Linked DNA regions of Homo sapiens: all the other regions are linked to region 2. The links come from fine-mapping of genetic effects on gene expression. A gene starts in region 2. Each other region holds a variant in brackets. All regions are shown on one strand. Distances are between the middles of the regions. Region 1 overlaps AK6 (adenylate kinase 6). Region 2 holds the start of OCLN (occludin). Region 3 overlaps OCLN (occludin).

Evidence for each region. PIP is the estimated chance that this variant, and not a neighbour inherited with it, causes the effect. A credible set is the group of variants that fine-mapping cannot tell apart.
Region 1: its variant is the best candidate, but not a certain one, in a credible set for the expression of OCLN in whole blood (TOPMed, PIP 0.58).
Region 3: its variant is the best candidate, but not a certain one, in a credible set for the expression of OCLN in whole blood (TOPMed, PIP 0.55).

The regions. Positions count from the first base shown.
Region 1 is chr5:69,350,984-69,359,172 of GRCh38, forward strand. It overlaps AK6 (adenylate kinase 6), which reads right to left. Exons shown (of 5, transcript NM_016283.5): 3 at 4,912-4,970; 4 at 4,666-4,811; 5 at 1-1,270. The coding sequence ends at 1,078. Among named protein-coding and RNA genes, the nearest start is that of AK6, 14 kb to the right of the region's middle. The variant G/A (reference allele first, on the strand shown) is at 4,126.
Region 2 is chr5:69,489,000-69,497,169 of GRCh38, forward strand. OCLN (occludin) reads left to right here and starts at 3,791. Exons shown (of 9, transcript NM_001205254.2): 1 at 3,791-3,901.
Region 3 is chr5:69,509,218-69,517,406 of GRCh38, forward strand. OCLN (occludin) reads left to right here. Exons shown (of 9, transcript NM_001205254.2): 3 at 1-602; 4 at 4,731-4,892. Among named protein-coding and RNA genes, the nearest start is that of OCLN, 21 kb to the left of the region's middle. RefSeq lists an enhancer at 7,894-8,189. The variant A/AG (reference allele first, on the strand shown) is at 4,066.

The DNA of each region.
Region 1 (8,189 bases), 140 kb before region 2:
TACTGTATAATCCCATTTATATGAAATATCCAGAATATGCAAATCCATAGAGACAGAAAGTAGACTAGTGACTGCAAGGGGATGAGGAGGAAAGAATAGAGAGTGACTGCTAAAGGGTATAGGAGTTCCCTTTATCATCACTGCTTCCTCCACAGTGGTGACAGTTACATAACCTTGTTAATAAGCTAAAAACCAACGGATTATAAATTTTATTTATGTTTATTTTTAGAGTCTAAGGTCTCACTATGTTGCCCAGGCTGGTCTTGAACTCCTGCCTCAAGCGATTCTCCACCTCAGCCTCCCCATTTGCTGGGATTACAGGCATAAGCCACCATACCCGGTTCTGATTATACACTTCAAAATGGTAAATTTTATTGTATGATATGTATATCTATCTCAACTAAAAAAAAGAACAGGGAGGTCTGTACTGAGATGATATAATCTTCAAATATAGTAAGTGAAAAAAGAAAGGTACAGAATAGTGTGCATAATATACTGTTATATTCTTTAAAAAATGTACACATGTACATATACACTGTGCAGGCATAAAACCTCTAAAAAGACATATAGGAAACCAGTAACATTATTTCCTAAAGGGAAGGAACCTGGGGTGCCTGGGGATAGGGTGGTCTGGAAGGGAGACCTAACTTTTCAACATGCTCTTTTGTACCTTTTGAACTTTGTATCGAGTACAACACTTAACTTTTTTTCTAATTTAAAGAAAGAAAAAAGGAATACTCTGTTGCTTTATCTTTAGTTTTATTTTAAGAGATCATCTGCATTTTTTTCTGTAATAAACTTAAAAGATATCCACCCATTTTGTCAGATTTATTTATTCTTTAGCAATTTAAGTATTAAAATCACAGTTTTTGTCTCAATCCTTAATAATACTATATTCATTATATTTCATGTTTAGCTTTCTCATGGAGAAAAAGAAACACAGGCATAAACCTATATACTATCCACCTGCTGGTTCTGCAACATGATTTTAATAAAGTGTTACTGACACTTGAACAATTTCTATGATGTCGGCAGAGATATCAACAAGAGTGATTATTAAGTAGCTAGCCTTATAAGTCAAGAGTTATGATCTTTGATCCACTGCTCAATCCATTTCAAGATCTGATCTACATTATTTTCTAGCTCTTCTGGTTTATTACTGGGCAGCTGATGCACGATTTCTTCCTTGTAGGATGCTGTGGCTTCTTCATAAAGAACTTGAAAAATCTCACACTGAATATTGTCTGTTAGTTTCTTCTCATTATAACCCCTAGAAGGCAGGGAGGTTAAGCAAACAAGAAGCAAAATAAATGGCATTAACTGGAGTTTCAGAAACATACCAGAAACTGGACACTTTTCAATACGTGAAAAATTACAGAAATGGTCTCTTCACCTAGAGAGGAGTGACTGGTACCTGTTTATATGACACAGTTTCTTGACACTAGGGTGAAACTAAAGATCACCAAACCAGCATCTAGGTTTGTTTGAATTTCCCCCCCCCACAATTTGTCAGCTACTCAATAAATTCCCAATGAATTAGTAAATTAGCAAAATCTCATAACTTAGTAATAAAAAGATTTGTAACCCAATTAAAACTTAAGCAAAGAATCTGAGTAAATATTTCTCCAAGGAAGATACACAACTGTCTAATAAGGACATGAAAAGATGTTCAGCATCTCTAGCTGTATAGGAAATGCAAATCAAAATTACAATGAGATATTACTTCACATCCAGCAGGATGACTACAACCAAAATATGAACAATAACAGCTGTTGGTGAGGATGTGGACAAATTAGAACCCTCATACACAGTGTGAATATGAGATGATGCAGCCACTATGGAAAACAATCTGGCAGTTATTGGAAGGGTCAAATACAAAGTTTCCATATTACCCAGCAATTCAATTCCTAGATATATAAACAAGAGAAATAAACACATGATGTCCACACAAAAACATGTGCAAGAATGTTTATGGATACAATATTCATAACAGCCAAAAAGTGAAACAACCCAAATGTCCACAACCTGATAAATGTATTTTAAAAATGATACATCCATACAATGGAATATTATTTGGCAATAAAAAGAAATGAAGTACTGGTCTATGATACAATATGAATGAACCTTGAAAACAAACTAATTTGACAGGAGACAGGCATAAAAGTCCACATCCTGTATGATTTCATTCATATGAAATATCTAGTATAGACAAATCCATAAAGACAGAGAGTAGATTATTGGTTGCCTAGGGCTGGGGAACTGAGGGTAAATGGGGAGTGACTACTACTGGGTATGGGGTTCCTTTCTGGGGTGACAAAAATTTTCTTTTTTTGAGACGGAGTCTTGCTCTGTCACCCAGGCTGGAGTGCAGTGGTGTGATCTCGGCTCACTGCAACCTCCACCTTCCGGGTTCAAGCAATTCTCCTGCCTCAGCCTCCTGAGTAGCTGGGATTACAGGTGCAAGCCACCACGCCCAGCTAATCTTTGTATTCCTAGTAGAGACGGGGTTTCACCATGTTGGTCAGGCTGGTCTCGAACTCCTGACCTCATGATTCAGCCACCTTGGCCTCCCAAAGTGCTGGAATTACAGGCGTGAGCCACCGCGCCCACCCCCAAAATTTTCTAAAATTGTTTGTGGTAATGATTGTACAACTTTTTGATATACAAAAAAACAAATGAGCAACTGATATATACACCTACTATGTACCCATAAAACTAGAAAAAAACCTGAATTATGTACTTTAAGTGGGTGAATGTAAACTAAATCTCAATAAAGTGGATATTTTTGTTTTTTGGTTGCTTTTGAGACAGGGTCTTGCTTTGTCAACCAGGCTGGAGTGCAGTGGTGCAATCACAGCTCACTGCAGCCTCAACCTCCCAGGCTCAAGCATTCCTCCCACCTCAGCCTCCAAAGTAGCTGGGACCACAGGTGCATGCCACCACACTTGGCTAAATTTTTTATTTTTTGTAGAGACCAAGGTCTTGCTATGTTGCCCAGGCTGGTCTCAAACTCCTAGGCTCAAGCAATCACCTTGCCTCAGCCTCCCAAATTGCTGGGATTACAGGTGTGAGGTGTGAGCCGTCCTGCCTCCCCCTCACCACCCAACCATGCCCAGCCTAAAGCTGTTACTTTTTTACAACCTTTTCGATAGTTAAAAATACTAACTAGCTCTCTCATAGTTTTTTCATACCTTAGTCTTACCCTTGGCTATATATGTAAAACAGTAATTTTTTAATCAAAATTTTAAATTGTCTTGATTGAAAAAAAGCATATGTACCATATAGTCTCTATTACTTCTCTGCCCCAAAACTTTTAATGGCTTTTCACTGCCTAAAAAAGATAAAAGTTTTAGGTTTAGCCCCAATTTAACTTTTTCTATATGTATATTTGCTGCCATACTATTCTGTGCAAGGATTTACAAGTATTGCAAATAATAGTGGTTAGTCAGAGTTGACTATAATCAGTGAAAACCACACATTCTGACCCCGACCTTAAGCAAAATTCTGGAGCTTTCCTTTCTGAGATTGCTCTCTAATTTCTCTAGAATCCCCATATTCCCACAGCTTTGATCAAAAGACAGTGGGGATAAAAGACTTCCCTAAAAGTTTCTCTTTACTGGTTCTTCCGCATTAAATCTGATGCTCTATTTGTGGGTTTAACTCGGTATCTATTAAAGACTGTGAAATGCTGGTTTATTTTGTTAGTTTTTCATAAGCTTTCCCACTCCTGATGCAGGGATAATTTGAGTGAGTAGTGTTCAGTCAATAAGCAAAGAATATGTTAGGGGCTTGGCTGTTTTCCTAGCAAGGGTTTACATCAAAGAAAAAGCATGGCTAAATAGGGTTTCTTTTTTTTGTTTGAGACGGAGTCTCACTCTGTTGCCCAGGCTGGAGTGCAGTGGTGTGATCTCAGCTCACTGCAAGCTCCACCTCCCAGGTTCACGTCGTTCTCCTGCCTCAGCCTCCAGAGTAGCTGGGACTGTACAGGTGCCTGCCACCATGCCCGGCTAATTTTTTTTGCATTTTTAGTAGTGACAGGATTTCACCATGTTAGCCAGCATGGTCTCGATGTCCTGACCTTGTGATCCTCCCACCTTGGTCTCCCAAAGTGCTGGGATTACAAGC[G/A]TGAGCCACTGTGCCCGGCCGACTAAATTGGGTTTCTACACAGTACATTTTACTCAATCAGATTGTCAGTTGAGATATTAATTTACTCAAAAAGTACTGCCCATATTTTAAAGTAGTCATATTTTCAAATAAAACCCTTTATTAGCTGGGTGCTATGACTCACACCTGTAGCCTCAGCACTTTGGGAGGCTGAGGTGGGCAGATTGCTGGAGCCCAAGAGTTCGAGACCAGTCTGGGCAACATGGGAGACCCCATCTCTACAAAAAATAAAAAAATTAGCCAGGCAAGGTGGCATGTGCCCGTGGTCTGTTAGTCAGGAGGCTGAGGCACAAGAATTGCTTGAACCAGGGAGGTGGAGGTTGCAGTGGACCGAGATCACACCACTGCCCTCCAGCCTGGGTGACAGCGAGACTCTATCTCAAAAAAACAAAACAAAACAAAACAAAACAAACAACAACAATCTTTTATCATGGCCAATTTCAGAAATCTGAATAAAAGTTAACATTATGCTTTAAGAATCTAATGTTTTTCCTTTCTTACCTTGTTTCAAGTCTTTCGTACAATACATTGGTATCTGTTCTCAGCACAAAAACTATATGAAACCAGCGTTCAGGGAAGAAATCACAACCATGGTAATCAACAATAACTCCACCTTCTCTCATTTGGTTATCTAACTCATCAACTACCTGTAAGAAAAGTTTAAAAAAAAATGCTTCTTAAGAAAACTGAAGTCAACTTTCCTATGAAATTCAACAAATGCATACTTTATGAAAAAGTCATACTTACTCTGTCTTCATCTAAAATGGGACAGTCATACTCTTCATCATAGCCATCATACAATTGCTCTAAAAGAGATTTAGAATTGCTTGTTGAAATATTTTCTAAGTAACTTTAAGTAATTTTCAATTAATTCTAGACTTCAGGAAAGGAAATGTATCATCAATTATTCTTTTAGATACAAGGGTGGATACTAACAAAATAAATGTTACATAAACACCAAATATAAAGGAGCCATACTAACTGATAAATTGGAATTTTGTTTAGAGGGAAACTTGGATTGCAATATATCTGAAACTGCTTTAAATATCAAAACTGAAACCAACTAAAAAGAGTGAATAACCAACTTCAGAATTTGTGGGGCTACTAGAAGAGGACTACACTATTTTTGTTGAACTACAGATTGGCGGGAAGAGGAAACACCTGAACAGATACAAACACACTCACATACATTTAAAAGCAGATTAATTTATCAAAAGCAGTAACAGGCCAGGCATGGTGGCTTTGCGCTTGTAATCCCAGCCCATACGAGGTAGGAGGATCTCTTGAGCCCAGGAGTTCAAGACAGCCTGGGCAATATGTTGAGAACCTGTTTCTACAGAAAAAAAAAAAAAAATTAGGCAGGCATGGTGGTGCACACCTGTAGTCCCAGTTACTTGGGAGGCTGAGGCAGAAGGATTGCTTGAGCCTGGGAGGTGGAGGTTACAATAAGGTGAGATCACACCACCGTACTCCAGGCTGGGCGACAGAGCAGGACCCTGTCTCCAAAAAGAAAGAAAGAAAAAAGCAATAACAGATTCTTTATTCCAGAAATGAACCCTCTGTCACTGAGCTCACATCCTCATGGGAATAGAGAAGGGTCAGGATCCAAATGCTCCTGAACAGTATCTTTACTTCTAGATTTCCAGTATTCCAAACTGCCGTTCCTCATAAGAGTTAAATAGTCTCATTTCAGAAGGCAAAACAAAAATAACGTTCAAAGTTACAAAGGAGGCAAATTTAAATTTAACATAAGAACTTTCCAACAAATCACAGCTGGTTTTCAAAAGAAGTATTCTTTCAGGAGGTAAGACATACCATCTTACCCTTAGCCCCAGCCCTTAGGAGGTATTAATCTAAGGCAAGCTCAGATCATCCATTAACCATCTCTGAGAGCATGTTATATAGCAGTCTTCCCACCTCTTTCCCCTTAATATTTTGGTACGGGTTGAAATGAGGTTAAAATGAACATAAATTCTGAAGGGACACAGGAGTAGTCTGATGGTCACTGCGGGGGCAGTCTGATGGACACTGGAGGGCACAAAAGCAGTTGTAACTCCTTGTCTTGCCTGGAGGGTCTGTGGACTGATTCTAGGCACATAAACCACCTTTCTAGCACTCTAGTGTGGCCTCTGCCTCCTTGGGCTATTGCTCACCTACCAGGAACTCTACCAACCTAAAAAATTAAACTGTCTTGGTATGAAGAAAACTGGTTAACAATTTAGAAAACAATCTAAATCCTTACTTTATACCACAAACCCCAGATGGAGCTATAAAGGAATGATTCATTTGAGTTTGTTGAGTAGCAGAAGAAATAAAAAGACTGATCCAGTTATTTAAAATGTTGACTCTCTGTTCCTTGAGAAATAATCAAATTCTAAGAAAAGTAACAGAATGGGAGAAATAACAAAGGACTGAAATGTAGATAATATAAAGACCTTAAAACCAAAATAACAATTGCTCAATAAACAAGAAAAGAATTCACACAAGATGGAAGAGTGGAAAAAATCAGTAAACACACATGAAAAAATACTGAATTTTCCTAGCTATTAAAGAGATGCAAATTAAAATGAGTCTATATTTATGCCTGTTATATGTTCAATCCATTTAGATATTTACACTACCATTTAATTTCTAATTGGACAAAATTAGAAAATAATAAAAAATGTTGAACAATAAGAAAAGTTAAATCTTGATTTACCAACTTTATAACTTTATAAAATATTATGTAATTAATTTTGTAAAAATTATGTAATTAAAATTAATAAGTATTAGAGTTATAGTATTATAGTTAACATAGTTTAAAAATACTATGTAGTATAGACTAGGCAGCAACATGATAAATGCTCACATATACAAGTGTAAAACACAAAAAGCAGAATTCAAAGTTGTCCTTACTAGGGACAAAGATTAGAAGAAAAACAAAAGCTTTGGAGTATTTTTCCATATACTATTTTTACAGTATTGCATATTTTTTTAACAGTACCACAAAATCTAAGAATACCTATAGCTGATTCTGTACTATGTGGTAATCTTGAATAGATAAACACGGAGGTTCCTTCATACTTTAAATCTTTGACTTTTAAAAGATGACTCTGGCCGGTGCGGTGGCTCATGCCTGTAATTCCAGCACACTGGAAGGCCGAGGTGGTTGATCACCTGTGGTCAGGAGTTGAGACCAGCCTGGCCAACATGGTGAAACCCCATCTCTACCAAAAATACAAAAGTTAGCCAGGCGTGGTGGCGGGTGCCTGTAATCCCAGCTGCTTGGGAGGTTGAGGCAGGAGAATCGCTTGAACCCGGGAGGAGGCTGCAGTGAGCTGAGATCGCGCCACTGCACTCCAGCCTGGGTGACAGAGCAAGACTCTGTCTCAAAAAAAAAAAAAAAAAAAAAAAAAGAAAGATGACTTGAACCAATATATGCTGTCTAAAATAGATGTGTTAACTTTTAGGATTGAAGTCTTTATTTTTTTTGAGACGGAGTCCCAGAGGCTATCAAGTCTACTGCAGATTTTTAGGTAAGTGATGATTGTAGCCTGTACCAGAGAAATGAACGGATCCTAAACTTCATTTCAAATTTCAAAAAAAGAATAAATTTTATGCTACTTTAGAAAGTTTCAATTGGAAGCCAAATTTATACTTGCCTATACATAGGATCTTAAGCAAAGATCAAAAAGGTTGATTTGTTTAAGGACTGAGAGATTAGAAAATTAAATCAACTTTCTAAACAAAGTTTTGCAGTTTATTTTTTTAAATTCCAGGTACAGATATATTGCTTGCAGAAAAAAAATCAATTGTGGGGCCAGAGTTAAAAGGGTGAGCATGGTGGTTCGCGCTTATAATCCTAGCACTTTCAGAGGCCGAGGTGGGAGGATCTCTTGAGCCTGGGAGTTCGGGATCACCCTGGATAACATAGCAACACCCCACCACTACCAAAAGAAAAAAAAAAAAATTAGCCCAGCATGGCGGTGCCAGCCTATAGTCCCAGCTACTCTGGAGGTTGAGGTGGGAGGACTGCTTGAGGCTGG
Region 2 (8,170 bases):
ATTCTTCCACCTGTTGAAGTTCCTGTTCAGGTGCTGAGTCTCTTTGTTTAAATATGGATTCCTCCCAGGAGGATCTTGCTTAACACATAGGAATAGAGAAGATAAAGGTTTACTCATCTAGTGTAATCATCCTTTTAGAAATTGTCTTCCTAGTGGCTTCCCCATAAATTCTTCCATACACCTGTCCAAGGAAACTGTCCTGTGTGGACCAGAAGCCTCCCCCTCCTCATGACTGGGCAGAGAAACTAGAGGCCTTTCAGGCCAGGCCCTCAGCAACTCCAAACTGAGTTGCCTTGGACACATACCAGTCTTTGAATTCATTTACTAAGCAGGCAAGGCAGAGTGGAAACAGTGGAACTATGTTAATCTCCCGTCTTTTCTCCTCTAAACCCTAGTACTAGAGATGTAAGCCTTGAAATGCTACTAAGGAACGTGCGGGTTTCACAATAGCAGGAGGCCATCTGAGAGGAGGACAAGACTCCACAGGCATGTTGGATTTGGGAAGCAGGGCTATAGTCATTCATTCATTCATCCAACACATAGTTATGTAATTCCTATGTGACAGGAACTATTTCAGGCATATAGGATACAGCAATGGCTTGCTCAATTTATTGAGACTTGTTTCGTGGCTCAGCATATAGTCTGTCTTGGTGAATGCTCCACATTCCCACCAACAGACTTATAAAGACAGTATTGTTTATTATCATCTCAAATTTACGGTGGAAAAAAATGAACCTTACATAGTTTAATTTCCTTTAGTCCTACCCAGCTACCAAGTAGCAACACTGGAATTTGAACTGAGATTTCTGACACCATAATCTGAGCTCTTAAGTTTCTCTTTTACACATAGAAAAGGAGAAACAAATTGTCTTTTCATCTTATCCATTTGACTGCAGGTAAAGTCAACAAGTTTCTAATCATGGGGTTCTGAAAATAATATTTACATTGCTCTGAGTCACGGGGATTTTCATCAAATAATATTCAATAGTGGATACTACTCAATACTACTGTGAGTTGCCAAGAAGGAATATTTGGTAAAAAATATAGTAATTAAATTTTGCTATAATTTATGATTATGTAACATGATTAAATTGAGCATGGCATCATTTAACATCCAACAAATTTTGTTTTGGTATTGAAGAATGATGTGTTTAAGTTTTAAGGCTGGATTTTCTTTCTAGACACTTTCAACTATGAAATATACACAATATTGGACAATAGTTAACCGTTCTTTTGATGTTGTTGTTTAGAAAATTAATCTCAAGCGAATAAAATAGAATTCATACAATTAATGAATCCTATTATTCCATATGGATGAACTCAGAACTAACTAGAAAGTAAGTTTCACAGAGATTTTTGAGTTTTGTTCACTCGTGTGTGTACAGATTAGGCACTCAGAAAATAGTTGAAGGAATGAATTGGGAAAGCAAATAGAATATGAAAGCCTTCTACCCAACACAACATGTCTTTGAGTTTAGGTTTAGGGTGGGAATAAGAAAAATAACATGATATGCATAAGTTATCTTAAAATGATAAAAAGTTTAATTTAAAAACCTAATTTACCAAGAGAACCGAAAACATATGTCCACACAAAAACTTGTACACAAATGTTCATAGTAACATTATTCATAACATCCCCAAAGGAGAAACAACCCAAATGTTCATCAACAGATGAATGATTAAACGAAATGTGATACATCGATACAATGGAATATTATTCAGTTATAAAAAGGAATGAAGTACCAATACATACTACATCATGGATGAACCTTTAAAATATTATGCTAAGTGAAAGAAGACAGACACAAAGGGCACATATTGTATTATCCATTCATATAAAATGTCCAGAATAGGCAAATTAATAGAGACAGAAAGTACATTAGTGGTTGCCGAGGGATGAGGGGAGAGGGGAAATGGGGAGTGACTATTAATGGGCATGGGGTTTCTTTTGGGGGCGATTAAAATGGAATTAGATGGTGGTGATGGTTGTACAATCTGGTGAGTATACTAAAACCCACTGAATTGTACGTGCCCTTTAAAAGGGTGAATTTTATGGTATGTGAACTCTCTTTTATAAAGTGGAAAAAAACTCCTAAGATCTCTTCAGAACATGTCAAAATACATTATAAAATAATAGACATGTGTTTACAAATCTGAGAGTATTAGGAAATGTTCCCTTGTTTAATTATAAACCAAATGGAATGTTTGGAGATTTCAGTAATCTGACAGGGAACATTAAGGGGATTAACCTGACTTCCCCAGTGTTAACAATACCAATTTAAACTGCATCATTCAAAAACTACATAGTCATATTAAAGCATTTGTAGCAATGACTTCCACGAAAAAAATACCAATTAAATTAATTACCCATTAAAGCTGCCATCATCTGAAATACCTCATATTTATATAGTGCTTTTACTTCCTCAAGTATGAATTGTGCCTTAAGATCTAATGTATGGGAGAGTCACATCTCTAACCATTTAATTAAAGGTAGAGAAGTGGGTGGGATTGGATAGAAATTTATTAGCAATGCTGACATTCCAGATTGGAACACAAAGACAAGCAGGATGTAAGAAACCTAAAAGTTCGCTTTCAATGCAGATAGTTAAATGCCAAGAACTATAATTGCCACATCCTGGAGTACAATTAAAAAATATGTTGAAAAACAACCAACATACATAAAAATATACACAGTGTTAAGTGCAGACTATGAAATTTCCCTTGGAAACAGAATCCAGATCAAGAAATAGAATACAGCACCCGGAACTAAGGTGCTTTTTCGTTTTCTTAAAAAAAAAAAAAAAGTAAACCAAGTTTATTTTGCTTTTTAAGTAGTGTTGTTCTTAAAGCACTACAGGTTGGTAAACAACGTATAAGGTGCTTTTTCTCAGGCCAAAGAGCCATAATAGTTTAAATTTCCCGGTCCTCAAGAGCGGACCGGGTGGGCAGGAGAGGACCCTGGGGTGGTGATGTGTAAACTGTATTATGCACTTTAGCCTGCTGGATGGCAACTAACACCTACAGTAGTTCACCCTCATTTTAACCCCTCTAAGTAATTGTCTCTTATTCTGAATCTAGAGATTCAGAAACAGCGCCAATGTTTACACACGACTTTTGAAATTTTCCCAGGAGTCTTTCGTTGGAGCAATACATCTAGATGCCTTTTTCCAGCAACAGTTTAATCAAATTCTGGAAGCAGAAAAGTGTCCTGTGAGGACGTGCCTTTCCTATCAAAGTGCTGAGTGCCTGGACCCTCTTTCCGGAGGAAACAGTCCCCTCTGGACCTCGTTCGGCCTCTCTCCATCAGACACCCCAAGGTTCCATCCGAAGCAGGCGGAGCACCGAACGCACCCCGGGGTGGTCAGGGACCCCCATCCGTGCTGCCCCCTAGGAGCCCGCGCCTCTCCTCTGCGCCCCGCCTCTCGGGCCGCAACGTCGCGCGGTTCCTTTAACAGCGCGCTGGCAGGGTGTGGGAAGCAGGACCGCGTCCTCCCGCCCCCTCCCATCCGAGTTTCAGGTGAATTGGTCACCGAGGGAGGAGGCCGACACACCACACCTACACTCCCGCGTCCACCTCTCCCTCCCTGCTTCCTCTGGCGGAGGCGGCAGGAACCGAGAGCCAGGTCCAGAGCGCCGAGGAGCCGGTCTAGGACGCAGCAGGTGGGACTCGCGGCGCTGGCCCGCAGGCTTCCCGCACCCCCTTCCACGTTGGTGCGCATGCCCGGGGGCAGGGCCGGTTGTAGGGAGGAGGGAAAGGAGAGGGAGAAGGGGGAGGAGACGTCCCCAGCCCAGTCCCCGGCTGAGCGCTGGCGGTCGGTGCGGCGTCAGGTGCGCCCGCCAGGTGAGCGCGCTCCCTGGCACCGTTGGCCCCCGGAGGGTCGGGCCCAGTTGCGGCGAGCGGGTGAGTGTTGGGCGCGGCGTCAGGGGCGCACGGGAGCCCGAGGGTCCCCGTGGGGGGACCGCGGCGACTATGTTAGGGGAGGTGCCGGGGGGAGGACGCTCCGCGCTGGTTTCGGTGGCAGTTTCGTCCCCGAGCTGGGACTCGTGGGAACCAGAGAGGCGCGGGTCTGCGGAGAGAGCAGCACCGGCCAACTTGGGAGGCTGCCTCCTGGGGCGAGGGGTGGCTTGGAGCCGCCGATCAAGCTTTATTCCGCGGAAACGCTGAAAGCTAGCAGTGCCTCAGCGGCGCGGGCAACTTTTCACTTTTATGGGGCACGACATTCCTGAACAGCGACGATCCTGCATCCGCTCTGGGGCTGCAGTTTGGGGGGGCGGCCTTCATGGAGAGGGATCCTGCGCCCAGCTCCTTGGGGGTCCTAAGCCTGAGGCTGCAGCGAGGCGGCTGTTCGGCGGCCCGGGCGGCTTAGATCCCGGGGGGAATTTCATTCCTTCCGCTCCCACCCCACCCCTTTGGATATCCCGGGGAGACGGGGGCTGGATTCAATCTGTGAAATATTCCAGGAGTCACGGTGTGGGCCACACTGGCTACTTCGAATCCACTTGTTGCGAGTTGTGTGAACCCGCGTCGATTTAAGCTGGGGGGCGGGGAGTTAATTTCGAGTGAGGCTGGACTTCGAGGGAAGCTGCTCACGCTTCGGATTCTCATCCGTGACCAAAAGGGCTGCCCCCAGGGGGGCGGAACTGCCTCCGGGCGGTGCCTGCCCGGCGAACGTGGGCGCGCGCTGCCTGGGAGCGCCTCGGTGCGCACGGAAGCCGGGACCCGCGCCCAGCCGGGCCACGGAGTTTGGGGACCTCCGGGACTGGGCCGGCCCCGCGCGCCAGCCATGTTGCCTGCGTCGGAGGAAGCGTGCGGGGAGCAGGGGTCGAGGGCCAAGATGGCCTCTGCGCCTAGGGGTTGGGAGCGGCGCCGAGCCCCTCGCGCTCCTCGGGAAGCCACCGGGCCCGAGGGAAAAGCCGCGGCATCCTTAGGCCGGACCCGGGGCTCGCTGGCCACACTGCCCGCTTGGGGAATTACCCTGCTCGAGGAGGAGGCGGCGGCTTTCCAGGCCAGTCAGTGTGTGGCCCTTAGGCAACAGGTGTATTATTGGGATACCTGGAAAAGAGAAACGTTTCCCATGAAGGCACTTATGGTGTTTTTTGGTGATTCTTGGTGTGATAGAAAACTAGGCGTTCCCAAGTGTAACAATAGTAACAGTAGTTCTTTTGCACTGTACATATGAGGTGCTTGTGTGTGTGTGTGTGTGTGTTTTTCCGAGACGGAGTCTGGCTCTGTCCCCCAGTGCAGTGGCATCATCTGGGCTCACTGCAACCTCTGCCTCCCGGGTTCAAGCGATTCTCCTGCTCAGCCTCCCGAATAGCTGGGATTACAGGCACCCACTAGTATGCACAGCTAATTTTTGTATTTTTAGTAGAGACAGGGTTTTGCCATTTGGTCAGGCTGGTCTCGAACTCCTGACCTCAGGTGATTCGCCCGCCTTGGCCTCCCAAAGTGCTGGGATTACAGGCGTAAGCCACCACACCCAGCCTTTATGAATATTTTCTTAGTGGTGCTTTAAAATAGACATCTTAAGTGTGTGTGGGAGGCAGAGATATTTCCTCAAACAAAGCAACACTTTTTTTTTGGTCGTTTTGCAATTTATTTAGTTATTAGGGGCCTCCTTTGTTAGGTGACGGAGCAGAGGATAGGGAGATCGGTAAGACATGATTCTCCACCTTTTGGCAGTTTCCAGGCCATTTCGGGAAATAGTGGGCAGCAGTGCCTCCTGCACGTGAGGCACTGTGGTAAAAGCATTCTGTATTTTCTCATTTAATTATCCCAACAACTCTAAAAGGCAGGCCTTAGTAGAACTCCATTTTAAAAGTGGGCAAATGCCGTGGGGGAAACGTTGCAGGTGGGCTTGCTTGCAAACTGCTTCAGCTAATATGGGAAGGAGTATCAGAAGCAGCGGTCCTTGATATTCCAGAACCAGATTTGGGGAATTTTTCTGGACTTTTCTACCATTGACTAGTAACTGTAGCCTGATACAAGATTTCCCGCATTTTGCTTGATATCAAGGTAAAATTCTTGTTTTCTTCTAAAGGTAGTGTTGGAATTACTACCTTTTCAAAATAGTATATTACTTTTAACCACATAAATGATCTGATGTAATATCTTTCATCTTCCTAGGAACCTCCCAGAAGGAAGTTTTCTTCAGTTGCATTTTAAGGCTTATTTGATTGGAATATTAATGGATCTTTTTCATCAAATTACTATTTATGGAAATAAGAGAGTAAACAGACCATGCAGATTTATGTTAGGCTTTTTGTTTTAACCCCTAGGCTTGCCGCTGTTCCGTAACCCAGTGATTCCAGTCTTGGCTGTGGTATGAATCACTTAGGGATCCTATTAAAACACAGATTCTGATTGGGAGGTCAGGAGTGGGGCCTGGGATTCTGCCTTTCTAACAGGCTCACAGGTGATTCTCAGACTGTTCTGTCTTCTTTTTCTCCCTTTCTCTTAGACTCTACGCACTTAATTACATTTGACAAACTGAAGTTGGAAAAAATAACGTTTATTGAGTGTTGTGTGAAGAACTTCAAGGCATTCACTGCTGGATTGAAATCCCAACTCTAATAATTGACTGTTGGTTTTATTAATTGAGTACTCATTGACAATCACTTTGTGCCAGGGCTAGTTCCAGCGACCAGGGATATAAATGATGGTCAAAATAGACATTTGATGTCTGGGATATGGGCATTCCAGATGCGGTGGAGATGATACCTATATTTTAGGTATGAGGGCAGAGGGGAGTTTGCTCTGAAAAAAAAAACAAGTTTTGTGTGATGGAGTGAGGGACAGGGAGGGCATCTCCCAGAAGGTGACGTCTGAGCTGAGACCTGAACAGCAGGTGTCTGTTGTGTAAAAGATCTGGGCTTTCTAGACAGGAAATTGCAAGATCAATGTCCTTTTTGGATTGACACCTTTATTGTAGACAGCAATTCTCAAAATATGTGATGTGTTTAAAAATCACCTGGAAGATTTATTAAAAATACAATTTCTGACACAGAGTCTATTACAAAATCTGCCTAACTTCAAATTTTTAGACAATTTACTAATGATGTGCCTGTAGTCTAAATCATTTAATATAAGGCACAACTTAAACTTTTTTTTTTTTTTTTGAGACAGAGTCTCGCTGTCTCCCAGGCTGGAGTGCAGTGGCACGATCTTGGCTTACTGCAAGCTCCGCCTCCCGGGTTCACACCATTCTCCTGCCTCGGCCTCCCGAGTAGTTGGGACTACAGGCGCCTGCCACCATGCCCAGCTAATTTTTTGTATTTTTAATAGAGGCGGGGTTTCACTGTGTTAGCGGGGATGGTCTCGATCTCCTGACCTCGTGATCCTCCCGTCTCGGCCCCCCAAAGTGCTGGGATTACAGGCGTGAGCCACCGCGCCCGGCCACAACTTAAACTTTTTAAAGGCAAATTGACAGTTACTGCATGTGCTCTAAAAGGAACAGACTTCTCTTAAATACAATAAAGTTTATTTTTCACTTATTGACAGTTTTCTTTAAAGAATAATTTGAGGCCAAAGCATTTTCAGACTATTTTTTCTTTTTTTATACTTTTTTTTTTTTTTTTTTTTTAAGATAGATAACGGAGTCTTACTCTGTTGCCCAGCCTGATCTTGAAGTTCTGGGCTCAAACAATCCCTCTGCCTTGGCTTCCCAAAGTACTGGGATTACAAGTGTGAGCCACCTTGCCCAGCCTCAGCCTGTTTTTTTCATCTTAGCTTAGTTTTCCATTAAGACAGCTTTTGGTCAGTAAACATTGTCAAGGGGAGAACACTTTATATTTTATCATTAGCCCAAGATGCTGGTTTTCAGATTAACATATTTGACAAGGATCTATCTGCTGCTTCCCTTTTGCCCCCGACTCTAATTTAGCTGTCTGACTTCTGTCCTTGTCACTCTCCTGACATAAGTTCCTGTAGGTGATAAGTGGCCTCTTCATTCTCATTTTTTCCTTCACTCAACACATGTACAGATTGTTAATGTTGCTGTGCTGGGCATTGGTCCTCTTTCACCTTTGGCTGCTGGCCTTAAAGCACAGTCACAGATTCACTTTGAAAGAGACCTTAGAAGTCTTCCAGTCTGGTCTCCAAAAAAATATCAAATAACTTAAGCTTTGCATAAATTGCATGAGCTCAAATTGTTGTTAGTTATTTTCGGAG
Region 3 (8,189 bases), 20 kb after region 2:
CCTACTCTTTTTACCCAGAAGATGAAATTCTTCACTTCTACAAATGGACCTCTCCTCCAGGAGTGATTCGGATCCTGTCTATGCTCATTATTGTGATGTGCATTGCCATCTTTGCCTGTGTGGCCTCCACGCTTGCCTGGGACAGAGGCTATGGAACTTCCCTTTTAGGAGGTAGTGTAGGCTACCCTTATGGAGGAAGTGGCTTTGGTAGCTACGGAAGTGGCTATGGCTATGGCTATGGTTATGGCTATGGCTACGGAGGCTATACAGACCCAAGAGCAGCAAAGGGCTTCATGTTGGCCATGGCTGCCTTTTGTTTCATTGCCGCGTTGGTGATCTTTGTTACCAGTGTTATAAGATCTGAAATGTCCAGAACAAGAAGATACTACTTAAGTGTGATAATAGTGAGTGCTATCCTGGGCATCATGGTGTTTATTGCCACAATTGTCTATATAATGGGAGTGAACCCAACTGCTCAGTCTTCTGGATCTCTATATGGTTCACAAATATATGCCCTCTGCAACCAATTTTATACACCTGCAGCTACTGGACTCTACGTGGATCAGTATTTGTATCACTACTGTGTTGTGGATCCCCAGGAGGTATGAGTGGTGTTTTGGGTTTTTTCTCCATCTCCTTAGCAGAGGCCTTCAACTTGAGATATGTGATAGAATCACTCTGGAAACTCTTAAAAAATATTGATGACAAGGCTCCACTTCTAATTAAATCTGGGGGAGGGGCTGAGTCTCATTAAGATATGATTAACATACCATGTAATTTGATTACTTAAATAACAGTTCAGTGGTTTTTAATATATTCACAGAATTGTGCCACCATCACCACAATCAATTTTAGAACATTTTCACTATCCTAAAAAGAAACTTGTACCCGTTAGCGGTCACTCCTCATTTCCCTAACCATTCTTAGCCCTAGGCAACCACTAATCCTACATCTATAAATTTGTCTATTCTCTAGGTATTTCATATAAATGGAATCACACAATGTGGTCTTTGTGATGGGCTTCTTTTACGTAGCATAATGTTTTTAAGGTTTACCCATGTCATAGCTTGTGCCATTCTCTCATTCCTTTTTATTGCTAATATTCCAGTGTGTGGATAAACCACATTTTATTTATCAGTTGATAGACATTTGTGTCTACATTGGCTATTAAGAATCATGCTAGACTGGGCACGGTGGCTCATGCTTGTAATCCCAGCACTTTGGGAGGCTGAGGCGGGCGGATCATGAGGTCAGGAGATTGTGACCATCCTCGCTAATAAGGTGAAACCCCGTCTCTACTAAAAATACAAAAAAAATTAGCTGGGCATGGTGGCAGGCACCTGTAGTCCCAGCTACTCGGGAGGCTCAGGCAGAAGAAATGGCGTGAACCCGGGAGGCGGAGCTTGCAGTGAGCTGAGATTGCGCCACTGCACTCCAGCCTGAGCGACAGAGCAAGACTCCATCTCAAAAAAAAAGAATCATGCTATAGACATTCTTGTATACGTTTTTGTGTGAACCTATGTTTTAATGATTTCTTGAGTTGGGTTATACCTAGGGGTGGAATTGCTGGGTCATATGGTGACTCTTTAATCTTTTGGGGAGCTACCAGAGTTTTTCCAAAGAGTTTGCATCATTTTACATTCACATCAGAAATGTATGAAAGTTCCAATTTCTCCACATCCTCACCAACACTTGTTATTGTCTGATTCTAGCCATGCTGATGGGTGAGAAGTGAAGTGGTGCTTTATTGTGATTTTGATTCGTATTTTCTTTATAGCTAATGTTATTAGCTATATAGTCATGTACTTATTGGCCATTTCTCTCTTATCTTTGGAGAAATGGCTGTTTAGACTTGTCCATTTTTTTTTTCTTTTTGAGACGGAGTCTTGCTCTATCGCCCAGGCTGGAGTGCAGTGGTGTGATCTTTGCTCACTGTGAGCTACGCCTCCTGGGTTCACACCATTCTCCTGCCTCAGCCTCCTGAATAGCTGGGACTACAGGCACCGGCCACCACGCCCAGCTAATTTTTTTTTTTTTTTGTATTTTTAGTAGAGATGGGGTTTCACCGTGTTAGCCACGATGGTCTCTATCTTCTGACCTCGTGATCCGCCCGCCTCGGCCTCCAAAGTGCTGGGATTACAGGTGTGAGCCACTGTGCCCGGCCTAGACTTGCCCATGTTTTAATTGGGCTATTTTTGTTGTTGTTTTGTTTTTGAGACAGAGTCTCACTGTCACCCAGGCTGGGGTGCAGTGGTGCAGTCACAGCTCACTGCATCCTTGACCTCCTGGGCTCAAGTGACCCTCCTACCTCAGTCTCCTGAGTAGCTAGGACCACAGGGGCATGCCACCACACCCGGATAATTTTTTAAAAAATTTTTTGTAGAGACAGGGTCTCACTTTGTTGCCCGGTCTGGGCTGGAACTCCTGGGCTCAAGTGATCCTGCCTTGGCCTTCCAAACCGCTGGGATTATAGGCATCTTTTCACTTTCTTGATGGTGTCCTTTGCATAAAAGCTTTTAGTTTTGGGCCGGGCATGGTAGCTCACGCCTGTAATCCCAGCACTTTGGAAGGCCAAGGTGGGCGGATCACCTGAGGTCAGGAGTTCGAGACCAGCCTGGCCAACATGGTGAAACTCCATCTCTACTAAAAATAGAAAAATTACCTGGACACGGTGGCGTGCCTGTAATCCCAGCTACTCAGTAGGCTGAGGCAGGAGAATCACTTGAACCCAGGAGGTGGAGGTTGCAGTGAGCTGAAATTGTGCCACTGCACTCCAGCCTAGACAACAAGAGCAAAACTCTGTCTCAAAAAAAAAAAAAAAAAAAAAATTTTTAGTTTTGATGATGTCCAGTTTATTTAATTTTTCTTCTGTTGCTTGTATTTTTGGTGTCATATCTAATGCTTTGCCTAATTCAGGGTCACAAGGATTTACTCCTATGTTTTCTATTATTTAATTTTTCTATAGTTTCATAATTTTAGCTTTTACAGTTAGGTCTGTGATTCATGTTGTGTTAATTTTGGGCATGATGGAAGCAAGGGTTCTGAAAGCTTTCGCATGTTTATATGCAGTTGTCTCAGTGTTACTTGTTGAAAGGACTGTTCCTCCACTAAGTTTTCTTCATGCCTTTGTCAAAAATGAATTGATCATAAATGTGGACATTTATTTCTGGGCTCTCAGTTCAGCTGCATTAATCATATGTCCTAATGCCAGTACCATACTGTCTTGATTACTGTAACTTTATAGTAAGTTTTGAAATTGTGGAGTGGGAGTTCTCCAACTTTGTTCTTCAAGACTGTTTTGGCTAGATTCTGGATTCCTTGCATTTCCATATGGATTTTAAGATCAGCATGTCAATTTTGGAAAAAAATGCCAGCTAGGATTTTGAAGGGTTATATTGAATCTGTAGGTCAATTTTGGATGTATTGTCATCTTTACAATTACAAGTCTTCTGATTCATGAACGTAAGATTCTTTTGATTTATGTAGGTCTTGTTAAACTTCTTTTAATAGTGTTTTATAGTTTTCAGAGTGTAAGTTAGTATGTTTAAAAGCTAAGCAAGTGATTCAAATGTGCAGGTTGGAGTTGAGAAACCTACTTTAGTAACCATGAGTCATACTGATTATATTAATATCTGAAATGTTTCTGAGTTACTGATCTTTTTTCCCTTGTTTTTCCTTTTTTCTTACACTAACTCAGGAGTTCCCATTCCTGAATGAGTCACTCCTTTGGAGTTAGACCTCTAGTATCTGTCTACCATTATTTAGAAGACTGAAGGTTTTCCCTGCAGACGTAGGTTTTCACAGTGCTCGTTGTTGCCATTTAGACATGTCCATGGTAGATAGGGACTGAGGGTTGGTACTCCTATCCTACCACACCCCTATCCCTCTTAGTTCTCTTACTACTTACTCTTTGAAAAATGATGTCACTGTCAAGACAGCTGGAAGGAGAGCCTCTTGTTCCCATTAGCAGACATCCAGGGTAGAGGCCTGATATTTCCCTCAACTTCAAGTGCCTCCCAGGCCAATATACCATTTAATATCCTATCACCACTGGGAGAACTGTTA[A/AG]GAGTAGGAAGTTTCTTTGTTACAGGGCCCTTTCTAGTAGTATGCAAGACTCCTGAAACAGAGAAACCTGCCAGACCAAATCAATCATTAGTCAATTTGCTATTTATAGCTTGATTAGATCCATGTCTTCATCATTTTTGGTAAGATAGAGATCTATGGACAGAAATTTACATTCAGTGTAAAAAGGCTTGCCAAGCATATGTTTTGAACAAGATTACAAGCATGATTGGCTATTTCAAAGCTGTGAATACTTTTGAGAGTAGCATTTTTCAGGCCCTTTAGAAGTATACCAATGATTGAGTTACTTTACTGGCCATTCTCGTAGGTGCACAAAGCTTGGCCCGTAGGTGTACAAGCTTTGGAACTAGTTTTTTACAGCTCTGAAATGAGGGTGATGATTGATAGTTCCTAACATTAGGCATTTTCTGAGGATTGAGTCAAGCAGTATGTACGTGTGTGTACATTTGCTGGCCTTAGCCCAGTTAGTGTGGGTTAGGTTTTATGATATGTCTGAAATGTAACTATTTGCTTCAGTTTTCTATCAATTAAACCACATGGATTTAGTAGGGCCTTAGGGTAGATAAGGGTTTTAATAATATGTAGAGGGTGAATTGTGATTAAGCAATTAAAATCTAATTATGCCAATATTTTCCACTCCTTTTTAGGCCATTGCCATTGTACTGGGGTTCATGATTATTGTGGCTTTTGCTTTAATAATTTTCTTTGCTGTGAAAACTCGAAGAAAGATGGACAGGTATGACAAGTCCAATATTTTGTGGGACAAGGAACACATTTATGATGAGCAGCCCCCCAATGTCGAGGAGTGGGTAAGTGTTAAAAAATAACTTTACATCTTTTATTAAAGCCCCAAATTTGTGTCTGAATTTTTAGTGCTTTGTTAAACTTTATTCTTAGAATTAATGTTTGTATATGTTGCAAAGGTTGTTGCATTGGTTTTTACTCAGAATTTTAAGAGGATGGGCTAAGTGGAAATGGTTTTACTAAAAGGTGAAAATCAGATTTCCATTTTCAAGGAGTGAATCTTGGTTTTGAAAAGAAATGGCTTCTAAAAAAATCATGCAGAAAGAACTTGGCCTTTGCAAAACAAAAACTACTTCTTCCCTCTACTCCCTTTTATTTTTCTGCTTATCATTTTGGAGATAAACAGAAACCATTGCCAAAGGTGCTCTCGTGGGTCAAGATTGGCAAGAGTGTTTTTGGAATAGCAGGTGGCAGGCCTTTTAAACTTTTTTTTTTTTTTATTGATCATTCTTGGGTGTTTCTCACAGAGGGGGATTTGGCAGGGTCATAGGACAATAGTGGAGGGAGGGTCAGCAGATAAACAAGTGAACAAAGGTCTCTGGTTTTCCTATGCAGAGGACCCTGCGGCCTTCTGCAGTGTTTGTGTCCCTGGGTACTTGAGATTAGGGAGTGGTGATGACTCTTAACGAGCATACTGCCTTCAAGCATCTGTTTAACAAAGCACATCTTGCACCACTCTTAATCCATTTAACCCTGAGTGGACACAGCACATGTTTCAGAGAGCACAGGGTTGGGGGTAGGGTCACCGATCAACAGGATCACAAGGCAGAAGAATTTTTCTTAGTACAGAACAAAATGAAAAGTCTCCCGTGTCTACCACTTTCTACACAGACATGGCAACCATCCGATTTCTCAATCCTTTCCCCGCCTTTCCCCCCTTTCTATTCCACAAAACCGCCATTGTCATCATGGCCCTTTCTCAATGAGCTGTTGGGTACACCTCCCAGACGGGGTGGTGGCTGGGCAGAGGGGCTCCTCACTTCCCAGTAGGGGCGGCCGGGCAGAGGCGCCCCTCACCTCCTGGACCGGGCGGCTGGCCGGGCGGGGGGCTGACCCCCCCACCTCCCTCCCGGACGGGGCGGCTGGCCGGGCAGAGGGGCTCCTCACTTCCCAGTAGGGGCGGCCGGGCAGAGGCGCCCCTAACCTCCCGGATGGGGCGGCTGGCCGGGCGGGGGGCTGACCCCCCCACCTCCTTCCCGGATGGGGCGGCTGGCCGGGCAGAGGGGCTCCTCACTTCCCAGTAGGGGCGGCCGGGCAGAGGGGCCCCTCACCTCCCAGACAGGGCGGCTGGCCGGGCAGGGGGCTGACCCCCCTACCTCCCTCCCAGACGGGGCGGCTGGCCGGGCAGAGGGGCTCCTCACTTCCCAGTAGGGGCGGCCGGGCAGAGGCGCCCCTCACCTCCCGGACGGGGCGGCTGGCCGGGCGGGGGGCTGACCCCCCCCCACCTCCCTCCCGGACGGGGCGGCTGGCCGGGCGGGGGGCTGACCCCCCCACCTCCCTCCCGGACGGGGCGGCTGGCCGGGCGGGGGGCTGACCCCCCCACCTCCCTCCCGGATGGGGTAGCTGCCGGGCAGAGACGCTCCTCACTTCCCAGACAGAGTGGCTGCCGGGCGGAGGGGCTCCTCACTTCTCATATGGGGCGGTTGCCAGGCGGAGGGTCTCCTCACTTCTCAGACGGGGCGGCTGGGCAGAGACGCTCCTCACCTCCCAGACGGGGTCGCGGCTGGGTAGAGGCGCTCCTCACATCCCAGACGGGGTGGCGGGGCAGAGGCGCTCCCCACATCTTAGACGATGGGCGGCCGGGCAGAGACGCTCCTCACTTCCTAGATGGCATGGGGGCCGGGAAGAGGCGCTCCTCACTTCCTAGATGGGATGGCGGCCGGGCAGAGACGCTCCTCACTTTCCAGACTGGGTAGCCAGGCAGAGGGGCTCCTCACGTCCCAGACGATGGGCGGCCAGGCAGAGACGCTCCTCACTTCCCAGACGGGGTGGCGGCCGGGCAGAGGCTGCAATCTTGGCACTTTGGGAGGCCAAGGCAGGCGGCTGGGAGGTGGAGGTTGTAGCGAGCCGAGATCACGCCACTGCACTCCAGCCTGGGCACCATTGAGCACTGAGTGAACCAGACTCCGTCTGCAATCCCGGCACCTTGGGAGGCCGAGGCTGGCGGATCAGTCGCAGTTCGGAGCTGGAGACCAGCCCGGCCAACACAGCGAAACCCCGTCTCCACCAAAAAAATAAGAAAACCAGTCAGGCGTGGTGGCGCGCGCCTGCAATCGCAGGCACTCGGCAGGCTGAGGCAGGAGAATCAGGCAGGGAGGCTGCAGTGAGCCGAGATGGCAGCAGTACAGTCCAGCTTCGGCTCGGCATCAGTGGGAGACCGTGGAAAGAGAGGGAGAGGGAGACCGTGGGGAGAGGGAGAGGGGGGAGAGGGAGAGGGCAAAACTTTTGACATAGATAACAGCATGACAAACCACAGTGACTAATTCTGAGTTAACATTATGAAATACTTCAGTGAGGCAAAGACAGATTAGAAAAATTTCCTTTTAAAAATATATACTATTAATCTTACCAAGCTTCCTATATGATGTGATTTGCTGAAAGCCTGGAAAGTTCCTCTTTAAAGATGCCTCCCAAATGAGTGTTAGTAAACTGTTTTTAGAGCTTTTTAGAGGCCAGGTGTGGTGGCTCACACTTGGAATCCCAGCACTTAGGGAGGCCAAGGTGGAAGGATCACTTGAGTCCAGGAGTTTGAGAACAACCTAGGCAACATAATGGGACCCTGTCTCTACAAAAAATAAAAAAAAAATTAGCTGGGCATGATGATGTATGCCTGTAGTCCCAGCTACTCAGGAGGCTGAGGTGATAGAATCACTGGAGCATGGGAGGTTGAAGCTGCAGTGAGCTGTTATTCTGCCACTGGCACTCTTGCCTGGATGGCAGAGTGAGACCCTGTCTCGGAAAAAAATAAAAATGAAAAGATGTTTGGAGTGAAACTTTTTCTAAGAAATCCTGTTAGGGTCCTGTTAGAAGCTACCTCAGAAACTGACATCACAGGGTTCTTTGAGCAGATTGATTTATTGTCATGAAGGTATGGCCACAGGTTCCCAGGAAGGTTTATTTTGGCCACTGGGAGTGGGGTGGCTAAAGATGGATGCTGGCTGCTGCTAGTCAGGTCTGGGGTAAAGACATTAATATATATATATATATATATTTTTTTTTTTTTTGAGACGGCTTCTGGCTCTGTCGTTCAGGCTGGAGTACAGTGGTGCAATATTGGCTCACTGCAACCTCCGCCTCCCGGG